Homo sapiens: one gene and its partners. The protein of the gene in region 3 interacts with the protein of the main gene of each other region in a pairwise test. Each region holds a gene or a part of one and is shown on either strand. Other genes may lie near its edges.

What was found.
Region 1: the proteins of AARSD1 (region 3) and SPANXN3 interact in binary tests that used the Homo sapiens proteins (3 or more experiments, as listed by UniProt).
Region 2: the proteins of AARSD1 (region 3) and ZNF185 interact in binary tests that used the Homo sapiens proteins (3 or more experiments, as listed by UniProt).

What each region holds. Positions count from the first base shown.
Region 1 is NC_000023.11:143,510,832-143,514,578, forward strand, and holds part of SPANXN3 (sperm protein associated with the nucleus on the X chromosome N3), read right to left. Parts: intron 1-3,747.
Region 2 is NC_000023.11:152,963,972-152,967,718, reverse strand, and holds part of ZNF185 (zinc finger protein 185), read right to left. Parts: intron 2,273-3,747; coding exon 2,192-2,272; intron 553-2,191; coding exon 481-552; intron 1-480. UniProt on the Homo sapiens protein: May be involved in the regulation of cellular proliferation and/or differentiation.
Region 3 is NC_000017.11:42,962,544-42,966,290, reverse strand, and holds the start of AARSD1 (alanyl-tRNA editing protein Aarsd1), read left to right. Parts: upstream 1-1,836; 5' UTR 1,837-1,850; coding exon 1,851-1,889; intron 1,890-2,053; coding exon 2,054-2,185; intron 2,186-3,747. Other genes in the region: PTGES3L-AARSD1 protein, read left to right, coding at 2,054-2,185. UniProt on the Homo sapiens protein: Functions in trans to edit the amino acid moiety from incorrectly charged tRNA(Ala).

The DNA of each region.
Region 1 (3,747 bases), on a different chromosome or scaffold from region 3:
GCTCCTCCACCCCCTTACTGTCACCCTCCATCCCCCTTCCTTCTCCACCTCAAACCAGGTCTCACGCCCAACGCTCTTTTGCCGAAAACCAGACACATGCCCAAAGGCCTTCCAAAGTCTTTCCCTTGCAGGAGGTTGCAAGGACTGAAGGCATAATCTGAATTCAAGTTCCCTAGCTGACTTCTCCCATACTGAAAAGAGACTTTGCTCCTTTTCAATGGATCCTACCTCCTTCCTCAAGGAATGTCTGTACTTCCCTAAATCTTATGACCTTACCTGGCATGACATATATGTCATCCTCTCCTCTACCCTCACCCTGGAGGACAGGGAACACATATTTACGGGTGCCCAGGTCCATGAGAACACCCTCCACCAACAAGATGCTGCTCATAACCCAGTAGGGACCCTAGCTGTCCCCAGAACTGACCTCAATCGGAATTATCAGGCAACTTCTGTAGACAGGCAGAAACCAGGCCATATGATATCATGCCTTCTAGCTGGCATAAATAAAGTCGCCCCTGCTCTTTTCCTCTCCCGCCTTTTCAAAGGTCACAACTAAATATGCCACCTTAAGCCCTAATACCATTAAGGGCAAAATCTACCTCCATTTACACTTTATCTCCCAGTCAGCCCCAGACATTTGAAAAAAAACTTTAAAAAGTGGAGGATGGCCCTCAAACCTCCAAAGAGACTTAATCAAAGTGGCCTTTAAGGTCTATAAGATTAGAGAGGAAGAACTAAAAAACCCAAACCTAAAAAAGGGCCAGGCTAAATATCAAATGCTGATAGCTGCCACTCAACAGGGTTCCCAAGGCATACAGAATTCCTCAACTTGGCAACAGTCAACTCCAGGAGCCTGTTATAAGTGCATCCAACAGGGACACTGAGCAAAAGCCTGGCCTAATCCCGTGACACTCTGGAAGCCTTGCCCCATCTGTGATATCAAGCAACACTGGAAGTCAGACTGTGCTCAGTGAAACTCTTCATCTAGCTTCACCACCTGTACCTGAAGACAGGTGGGGCCTAGAGTCCACCACCCCTACTGCCATCACCACCTCGGAACCCAGGGTAATTCTGTCAGTCTCTAGTAAGTCCATGTCTTTCCTATTGGATACTCAATACGACAACTAGTTACTCGGTTTTACCAGAATATTCTAGACCCTTTTTCTGTTCTTCGATCTCTATTGTGAGAATCAATAAAATCCCCTCTAGGCACAGACTCGTCCTTTATTATGCAACCTATTCAACAGCCCCCTTCACCCACTGTTTCCTGGTTATCCCTCAGTCCCCTACCCCTATCTTGGGGTGGGACATATTAAGTAAATTCCAGGCCTCCATGCAATGCGGCTCCTACAATTCTACCCCTTTTATTTTACTCCGACACCCAAACGCTTCCCTCTCCCCCTACTCATCCTCATTATCCACCCTGTTACCTTCTGTTAATTCTAAAGCTTGGAATGTTTCTAAACCCACAATAGCCACACATCACATCCCAGTTAAAATAACCTTTCAAAACTCCTCCATTTTCTTTTTTCAGTCTCAATATCCCCTTAATCCAGCCGTGCTTAGGGGCCTCAAACCTATTATTTGTAAACTTTAACAAGCTCATATTCTCAAGCCTGTTAACTCTCCCCAGAACACCCCTATTCTGGCTTTCCAAAAGACAGACGGGACTTACCCCTTTGTCCAGGATCTCCAAGTTGTTGACCAGGCAGTGGTACCAATACATCTAGTGGTCCTCAACCAATATGCTCTACTCTCCCATATTCCTAAATCTACTACACACTCCTCTGTATTGGAACTGAAAGATGCCTATTTCACCATTCCCTTAAATCCGGCTTACAGAAGTCTTTTTGCTTTAACTTGGTCAAGTCCTAATACTCACATGTGCACCCAACTAGAGTGGACTGTACTCTTACAGGGGTTCCAGGATAGCCCCCACCTATTCAGACTTGCCCTCATCAAGGACCTAGGTGAACTTTCCCTTGCTGCTAGCACCCTCCTGCAACATGTCAAACTCCTTCTCTGTAGCCCCTTCCTTAACCTGTCCATCCAACACACCACTTAGGTTTTAAACTTCCTCCATAATAGAGGAAATCTCAGGTAGCCCAAACCAAAGTTTGGGCCTAGCCCACAATATTTCAGGTAGCCCAAACCAAAGTTACTTACCTTGGGTTTGTCCTAACCCCTAATTCTCGAGCCATCCCAACCCAATGAAAGGAGCTAATTTGGGACATGCCCTTTCCTCACACAAAAAAGTACCTTCTCTCCTTCTCGGGCCTTGTGGGTTACTTCTGGCTGTCAGTTCCCAATTTTGACTTGCTGGCCAAGCCACTAAACAGGGCCTCACATGGGCCCATCCTAAAACCCCTAAACCCAGCTTGCCCCATCAACTCCCACTTAAAAACTTAAAAATGCCCTTTTAATGGCCCTGGCACAGGGACTGCCCAACCTCACCAAGCCCGTTACTTTGTATGTACATTCTGACCAGGGCCTTGCCCTTGGACTACTCTGCCAAACATACGGCAACGCCACACAAGCCACTGCACTTCTCTCAAAACAACTGGACTCTGTTGTTTTGTGTGACCAAGGCTGGTCACTCTGACTAAAAATCTTGGCTGTGGCCACATCGCTGGCCTTAGAGGCACGGAAACTCCCTCTTTACCAACACATTACTATTGCATCTTCCCATTACCTACAGGACCTCATAAACCATCAATCCCTTCTATCCCTCCTACCATCCTGCTTATAACAGGTACATGCCTTATTCCTAGGTAGCCCTCTAATCCCCTTCCAGAGATATAAAACTCTCAACCCAGCCACCCTCCTCCCTGTAAACACTTCCGATTCTAGGCTCTCTCACTCCTGTCTGGACCTCTTAGACTCCCTCTCCTCCTCCTTCCAACACATTTCACATGCCCCTTTGCAGGGAACACATACACGGTTAGTTAATGGAAGCTCTTTTAGGGAGCCATGTCCAGCAGCTGGCTATTCCATCATTGCTGAAAATAAACTCCTAGAATCCAATGCTCTGCCACCCCATGCTACCTCTCAACAGCCTAAGCTAGTTGCCCTAACCAGGGCCCTCACCCTAGCAAAGGGAAAGAGGGTCAACATTTACACCCATTCCAAATATGCATACCATGTCCTACAGTCTCATGCCTTCATCTGGCAGGAACAGGGTTTCCTAACTACAAAAGGAACTCCCATAAGAAATGGCAAACTTATACATAAGCTGCTGGGGGTGGATAAACTACCACCAAAGGCCACCATTATCCATTGCAAGGGGTGCCGAAAGTCTAAAGATGCCATAACCGAGAGAAACCTTTCAACAAATTTGGCAGCCTGGCAGGCAGCCCTTAAAACCCCATCGTTATTGCTCATTTTTTCCTGTATATACCCAGAAGGAATGAACCCCACTTGCCCGGGCTGGTGCCATTCAGGAAAAAATTGTTTGATCTCAGTGATAAAGTGTCTTGTCCAAGTTTAAAAAACCTTCTGTACTTTCATATGTGCACAACCATTTCCATGCTGCTTACTGCCCCTACTCCAGCTTTTAGAAAATTATATACATTCTTCTGCCATGGCTGCCAATCTGAAATATATTACTAAGGCATGTTCCCTTTGCACTCAAACTTCCCCTCAGGAAGCTATCAAACCACCTCCTTTCCAACACACAAGGTCTGAGGACACTTACCAGGGCAGGACTAGCAAATCAACGTCACTCACATGTCCCCCAGAAAGTGA
Region 2 (3,747 bases), on a different chromosome or scaffold from region 3:
GCCCCTGCTTTCAATTTGGTGGCTCCACAGCACTGGGCATTCTTGGCTTTGTGTGTCTTTCTGGCTTCTTGATGCCAGCAGCCCATTTTTCTTCCTTCTCTGCCCACTCCTCTCTTTTGTAGTCATTTTATTTTTACTTCTGGTTAGATTTGCAAGTTAATGAAGTGATTGATTAGGTTCTAATCTGAAGGGCCCCTCCTGCTGACACGAGTCCTCTGGGTTGTCAGATGCCACCACTTCCCTTCTCAGTCACCGCTGGTATCTACCCTCTAGTCTTAGCTCAATTCAAAGGCTTTAGTTGTCACAAGTGTGATATCCCAACAAGGGAAGCACCACCCTACGGTAGTGTCCTTCACCTTTCTGCAAATGGATTGGAGGCTGCAAAGCAGAAGACAAAAGCAAACAGACTCAGCAGGAACTCTCCCTTCCCTGATTCTCCTCTGTAGAAGTGCAAGCTCCGTGCTAAGAAAGTCAACATACCTCTCAGAGTATGGAGTGCTGCCACATGGAGGCTTCTTCTCCATGGCGAATGAGTCCTCAATGCTGCTGACGCTGCAGGGAGTTTGATAGGGGAGAGGAGGGCAGAGATGAGAGCCAAATCACTATCATAGTTAATTTTCTAATTAACCTTTGGCCACAAGCTGAGACATAACTACGATGCCAGTCGTCATTCATGACTTGGTGCCACAGGGCCCTTCTATGGGGGGGCAAAGGAGACCTTTCACAATGAGGGAGATGATCGGGGCTGGGTGGCTAGGATTCCTGAGGTTGTATATGCCAAGGGGACCCCACTGACCAGTGGGAAAACAGCAGAGCTTTCCTCCCCACCTATGATATAATGTGACAGTCACCAGGAGCCCACTCAGCAGAAATCAGATACTGGGAATGAGAAGAAAGAAGGGATCATTCTGGTATAATACCTGTGCTTGAGTTATGGGGTAGAATTAGGGGGTGCAGACGGGTTTGGAGTTTCTTTTTGGGGAGACAAAGGTGTTCCAGAATTGGATAATGATGTTTGCATAACTCTGTGAATGTACCAAAACCTCGGGACTGTACACTTTAAAGGGTGAATTATAACTCAATAAGCTGTTGAGAAAAACCACCCTAAGGGCCTACAGATGTGAAAGCAAAGCTCAGAGAGGTTGAACATCTTGTCCGAAGTGATCCTAACAGGGGGGCCTGAGCTGGGGCTTGAACTTGACCCCCACAGCCATGCTCATCATTCCACAGCACCAATAAAAGCCAGTCCAGAAGCCCCAGAGGCCCAATCCTGAAATAAGGCCAGGATGCTCCTCTCTGTTGCTAAAATCCTCCAGTGAGATGACATGTCATAAGAAACATTCTAAGGGACCTCACCTCAGTGTGGTAGGTAGCAATACACCGAGGTGACATGGAAGTACCCCTCCACATGGCATCACAAAGCAAGAAAATGAAGAGATGATCAATGAAAAGGGGAGGCCGAGGCAGGTGGATTGCTTGAGGTCAGGAATTCGAGACCAGCCTGGCCAACATGGTGAAACTTCATCTCTACTAAAATACAAAAACTAGCTGGGCATGGTGGTGGGCGCCTGTAATCCCAGCTACTAGGGAGGCTAAGGCAGGAGAATTGCCTGAACCCAGGAGGCAGAGGTTGTGGTGAGCTGAGATGGCGCCACTGCACTCCAGCCTGGGCAACAGAGCAAGACTCCATCTCAAAAAAAAATTAATTAAAATTAATTAACTAATTAATTAAAATTAAAAAGCAAAGCCACACATGTATCAGGAACTGCAGTCACATGTGTGTTCAAATGAGGCAGCCTGGCATGACAGAAAAGAACATGAGGGCAGAAGAGAAGAGCTCTGTGATCTGAAAAGAAATAGGATGAGCTAGTTGGTCCCTAGGGCTCTGCCAGCTCTGTCAAGAGGGGTGTTCTCAGCATTTTACAAAATAAAATAACAAAGACAAGCAGAACAGAATGGCAGTGAAAATGGTGTGCAGGATGAATTCACCGGAAGGGAGAACCCAAAGGTGCCCAGTTCAGTAGAAAATGCATCAATCCCATCAGAGGGCAACTACATCACTCATCCACTCGACAATTACCCCGAAGCTACTCTGAGCCAAGTCCTGGACAAGGAACTGGAAATGCAGGGATGAGAATATGGGAGCCGGCAGGAGAAGGCCGACATGGAAGGGTTTGGGACCCGCTCTTACTTGCTATAGCGTGCAGATACTGGCTTCCCAGAAGACACTTCACTAGCATTCACGTACTCCTTCACGAAGAGAATCCCTTTGCTGTAGAAGGAGCACAGAAGAAATCAGAGGTACACCAGAAGATTCCAGGGAACCAGGCCTGGCCCACAGGAGTGGTTCAGGGCTGGGGAGACCCAGCCTGGTTTGAAGGAAGTGAAAGAGCTCATGGGAAGGCCCAGGATAAAGGCACTGGCACTGCTGTGGACTCAGACTACAATCCCAGGCCATGAGCGTCTCTTGTTGTGTTTGGACTGAGGGCCCCAGAAAGGGGCTTCCTGCAACCAATGACAATGTGCTGTCCTCCTCCATGCAGACCTCGGTGACCCCATCTTCTCCCCAGGCTTCTATACTTCTACACTTCAGTCCTGTGGGCTTTCCACCCCTACTTTAGGGCTGCGTCGTCTTTCCCCTCTACCCACAACCAAGATATCCTCCAAGCCTTAATCCTACACTGTCAGTCTTTACCACTCAGCACTTCCCAGAAGGTACTCAGCTACTGTGCAATCTCCACCTCACATCTAACCTCTCCATTCTCACTCCTAGAGTCCAGAGGCCTAGAGGTTGCCTCATCCTGGACTGGCCTCTGCAGGACTGGAAACAAGGTCTGCATCATGCTGGGCTCAGGATGGCCCCAAATTTTCCCCCATTTCCATGCTGCACACTCCAGCCTGCTGACCTGATGTCTGCAGAGGCCCCCTTGGATATGCCCCCCTCCCGCCCCCAACACACACACCTCACTGAGCAGCCTTCCTGCAGTGACATCCCTTCCTGCACCCTGACAGGTGGCCAGGAATGCAGGTGAAGCAGTGGGCATGTGACAGAGACAGACAAACCTCATGTTGAAATGTGATTCCCAGTGTTGGAGGTGGGGCTTGGAGGGAGGTGACGGGATCATGGGGGGATCCCTCATGAACAGCTAGCACCATCCCCTTAGTGAAAAGTGAGTTCTCATTCAGTTAGTTCACACAAGATCTGGTTGTTTCAAAGTCCGGGCCCTCCCCTTCCTCACTCTTGTTCCTGCTCGTGCCATGTGATGGTCCTGCTCCCACTTCGGCTTCCACCATGATTATAAGCTTCCCGAGGCCTTTGCCAGAAGCCAAGCAGCTGCTGGTGCCATGCTTGTGCAGCCTGCCAAACTGTGAGCCAATTAAACCTCTTTCCTTTATAAATGTCCCAGCCTCAGGTATTCCTTTACAGTAACACAGGAATGCCCTCACAGGCCCGGCCTTCACGGACTGGAGCTGGCTTCCCAGGCATGGACCCATGAATGGCAGAGCCACATCCACTAGTGCACTAGGAAGTACCACTGCAGCCTCTTACAGAGATAGGAAAAAGGAGGTGTGGGAATGTCTAGGCCCGGTAGATGGGAGTTTATATTAGGGGACTAACACTGTCCTGTGTGGCCCCTTGGCTAATGGCCTGCTAGAAACTGGGGAAGGCACTAAATGGGAAGCAACATGGAACAAAAGCCAAGTCCTTTACCGCCAAGGAGGAAGTGGCGGAGGAACATCTCCCAG
Region 3 (3,747 bases):
CATTTGCAAACAATATTGCAATCAACATTTAAAAATGTGGATCTTTACATATTTTTGCCAGGATATCTGTAGGGTACATTTCTAGAAGTAGAATTGCTAGGTCAAGGAGTAGATAAAATACATTTAAACATTTTGATAGCTGTTACCAAGTTGCTCTTTGATGAAATTGTACCAATTCTCACTCCTACGAACAATGAGAGTGTTCCATTCTCTAAATCGTTTCAGATATTTGACAAGATAAAAATTAGCACCTGGTTTAATTTGCTTTTTTTTTTTTTTTTTTTTTTTTTTTTTTTGAGACGAAGTCTCGCTTTGTCAGCCAGGCTGGAGTGCAGTATCGCGATCTCAGTTCACGGCAACCTCCGCCTGCCAGGTTCAAGCGATTCTCCTGCTTCAGCCTCCTTAGAAGCTGGGATGTAATCCCAGCCTGTAGGTGCCCGCCACCACACCGAGCTAATTTTTGTATTTTTAGTAGACACAGGGTTTTGCCATGTTGGCCAGGCTGGTATCGAACTTCTGGCCTCAGCTGATCCAGGCACCTCGGCCTCCCAAACTGCTGGGATTACAGATGTGAGCCACTGTGTCTGGCCCAAACTATTTTAATGTAATGTAATGTAATTTTCTTGAGACGTAGTCTCGCTGGGTTACCCAGGCTGGAGTGCAGTGGTACGATTTCGGCTCACTGCAACCTCCTCCTCTCGGGTTAAAGTGATTCTCCTGCCTCAGCCTCCCGTGTAGCTGGGATTATATAGGCGTGTGCCACCACGCCTGGCTAATGTTTTTGTGTTTTTAGTAGAAACAGGGTTTCACCATGTTGGCCACGCTGGCCAAATTGTTCTTCTTTTTTTTTTTTTTTTTTTTTTTTGAGACGGAGTCTCGCTCTGTCGCCCAGGCTGGAGTGCAATGGTGCGATCTCGGCTCACTGCAAGCTCCGCCTCCCAGGTTCACGCCATTCTCCTGCCTCAGCCTCCGGAGTAGCTGGGACTACAGGCGTCCGCCACCACGCCCGGCTAATTTTTTGTATTTTTAGTAGAGACGGGATTTCACCGCGTTAGTCAGGATGGTCTCGATATCCTGACCTCGTGATCCGCCCGCCTCGGCCTCCCAAAGTGCTGGGATTACAGGCGTGAGTCACCGCGCTCGGCCTTTTTTTTTTTTTTTTTTTTTTTTTTTAATTGAGACGGAGTCTCGCTCTGTCGCCCAGGCTGGAGTGCAGTGGTGCAATCTCTGCTCACTGCAACCCCGCCTCCCGGGTTCCAGCGATTCTCCTGCCTCAGCCTCCCGGGTAGCTGGGATTACAGGCGCCCGCCACCACGCCCGGCTAATTTTTGTATTTTTAGTAGAGACGGAGTTTCGCTATGTTGGCCAGGCTGGTCTCGAACTCCTGGCCTGAGGTGATCCACCCGCCTCGACCTCCCAAAATGCTGGGATTACAGGCGTGAGCCACCTCCCCCAGCTCCTTGCTTTCTATTTCTACTGGGCAGTGCTGCTCAGTAACCATGCCAGTCCCGTCCCCGCCTCTATGCGCTGGGATTCCGCAGCCAGAATACTTACATCCCTGGGGCCCCAAGGGGCTCACTAAACCACGTGCCTTGTCCAGGTCGCGTTTTTTTGTTTTTGTTTGTTTGTTTTTTTCCTCCTGGTCTTGTCCTTTGTAAAGCCTTAGAACAGTCGTTAAACAACCCAGCAAATATGCAATTCGCGTTTTCAGTAAATTTATCCAAACCGCATTCCATTCCTTACCCTCCTGCTTCTGCGCAGACAAGCGCCCTTGATGACGTTTGTCCCACGTCGCTCTCCGTTCGCTCCCAGGCTTCTCTGCGCGTGCGCCTCCTCACACGCCTGCAGGTATGGCGTTCTGGTGTCAGCGTGACAGTTATGCCCGAGAGGTACGGCGTCACGGCGAGGCACTTGAGACTGCCGGGCCGGCAAGGCGGTTTGGGGAAGAGGGCGCCACGTGTAGGGAGTGCCAACATGGCATTCTGTCCTGGTGTGGAGAGGGCTAGGGCTAGGGCTGGGGTCGGGGCTTATTCTCTCATTCCTCTCTGTTCAGTTCACCACCACCGTGGTCTCCTGCTGTCCCGCGGAGCTGCAGACTGAAGGGAGCAACGGCAAGAAAGAAGTGCTGAGCGGTTTCCAAGTGGTGCTGGAAGACACAGTGCTTTTCCCTGAGGGCGGGGGACAGGTACCAAAACGATCTCTTCCCAGGAAGCCCCCAGTTTCTTTGTGCTCAGGCCGAAATGCTCTCCTGCCCCTTTTTTCTCAGCCATAATGAATTCAGATGAGCTTTAGTTTAATTCATTTTGTTATTCATTTAATGAGTATTTATCAGCAATTGCTTATCTAGACATAACATATGCTAGATATTATTCCAGGCTGTAAGGATAACCGGTGAACAACACAGTGCCTTTATATACGTGGAATGTTTATTGAAGACAACTGTGTGTGCTAGGTATAATAAGTAATAAACAAAAACCAAGTAAAGGGAAAGAGAGTGATGGGATGCTTGTCTAGATGAAGGGTAAGTTATTTCAGTAGAGACCTAAACGAAGTGAGGGGGTGAGTCTTTGCAATTATCTAGTGGTGCTGGGGGGCAGAGGGAGTATTCAGGCAGGTAGAATAGCAGGTGCAAAGGCCCCAAGGAAGGAATTAGCTTCGGGTTTTAGGGACTGAAAAAGATGTTCCTGAAGGAGTTCAGGTGAGATAGACGGGTTACAGTAGTACAGCAGAGAGCATATTTATCAGTGCTGTGATGAGGACTAGGTACAACATGAGCGCAAGTGAGGTACATTGTGAAGATGGAAGAGGAGGATAATAACACCAAAGGTGGGCATTATGAGAAAGGCTTTTCTTTCTTTTCTTTTCTTTCTTTCTTTCTTTTTTTTTTTGAGACAGAATCTCTCGCTGTCATCAGGCTGAAGTGCAGTGGCATGATCTCAGCTCTGCAACCTCCGCCTCCTGGGTTCAAGTGATTCTCCTGTCTCAGCCTCCCAAGTAGCCTGACCAACATGATGAAACCTTGTCTCTACTAAAAATATAAAAATTAACCAGGCATACTGGCAGGCCCCTGTAGTCCCAGCTACTCGGGAGGCTGAGGCATGAGAATCACTTGAACCGGGAGGCTGAAGTTGCAGTGAGCCAAGATTGTGCCACTGCACTTCAGCGTGGGGGACAGAACAAGACTCCGTCTCAAAAGAAAAAAAAAAGGTGTATTAAGGTGTGTGGGCAGCGAACCATGCAGGTTATTTTCTTTCTTTTTTATTTTTAAGAGACAGGATCTTGCTATGTCACCCAGGCTGGAGTGCAGTGGCCTGATCTAGCTCACTGCAGCCTCGAACTCCCAGGCTCAAGCAATCCTCCTGTTTTAGCCTCTCCAGTAGTGGGGACTACAGGCGCACAACCAACATGCTTGGCTGCTTTTTTGTAGAGATGAGGTCTCACTTTATTGCCCAGGCTGATCTTGAGCTCCTGGCCTCAAACAGTCCTCCCACCTTGGCCTCCCAAAGGCTGGGCCTACAGGTGTGAGCCACTGCCCTGGCCTCCACTCAGGTTCTTAAGCAAATAAGTGACATGAGAGAACATGTTCAGTAGACTTGGTATTGAGAGAGTTCCAATTTCATATCAGTCATTATTATGGTGATTTTCCCAGTATGAAGATTTCCCTGATCTGCTGAAGGAAAACCTGTGACCTCAAGTATCCATAGAAGGTCTCATTTTAGACAGCATTTCTTTCAGGAAGTCTTTTTT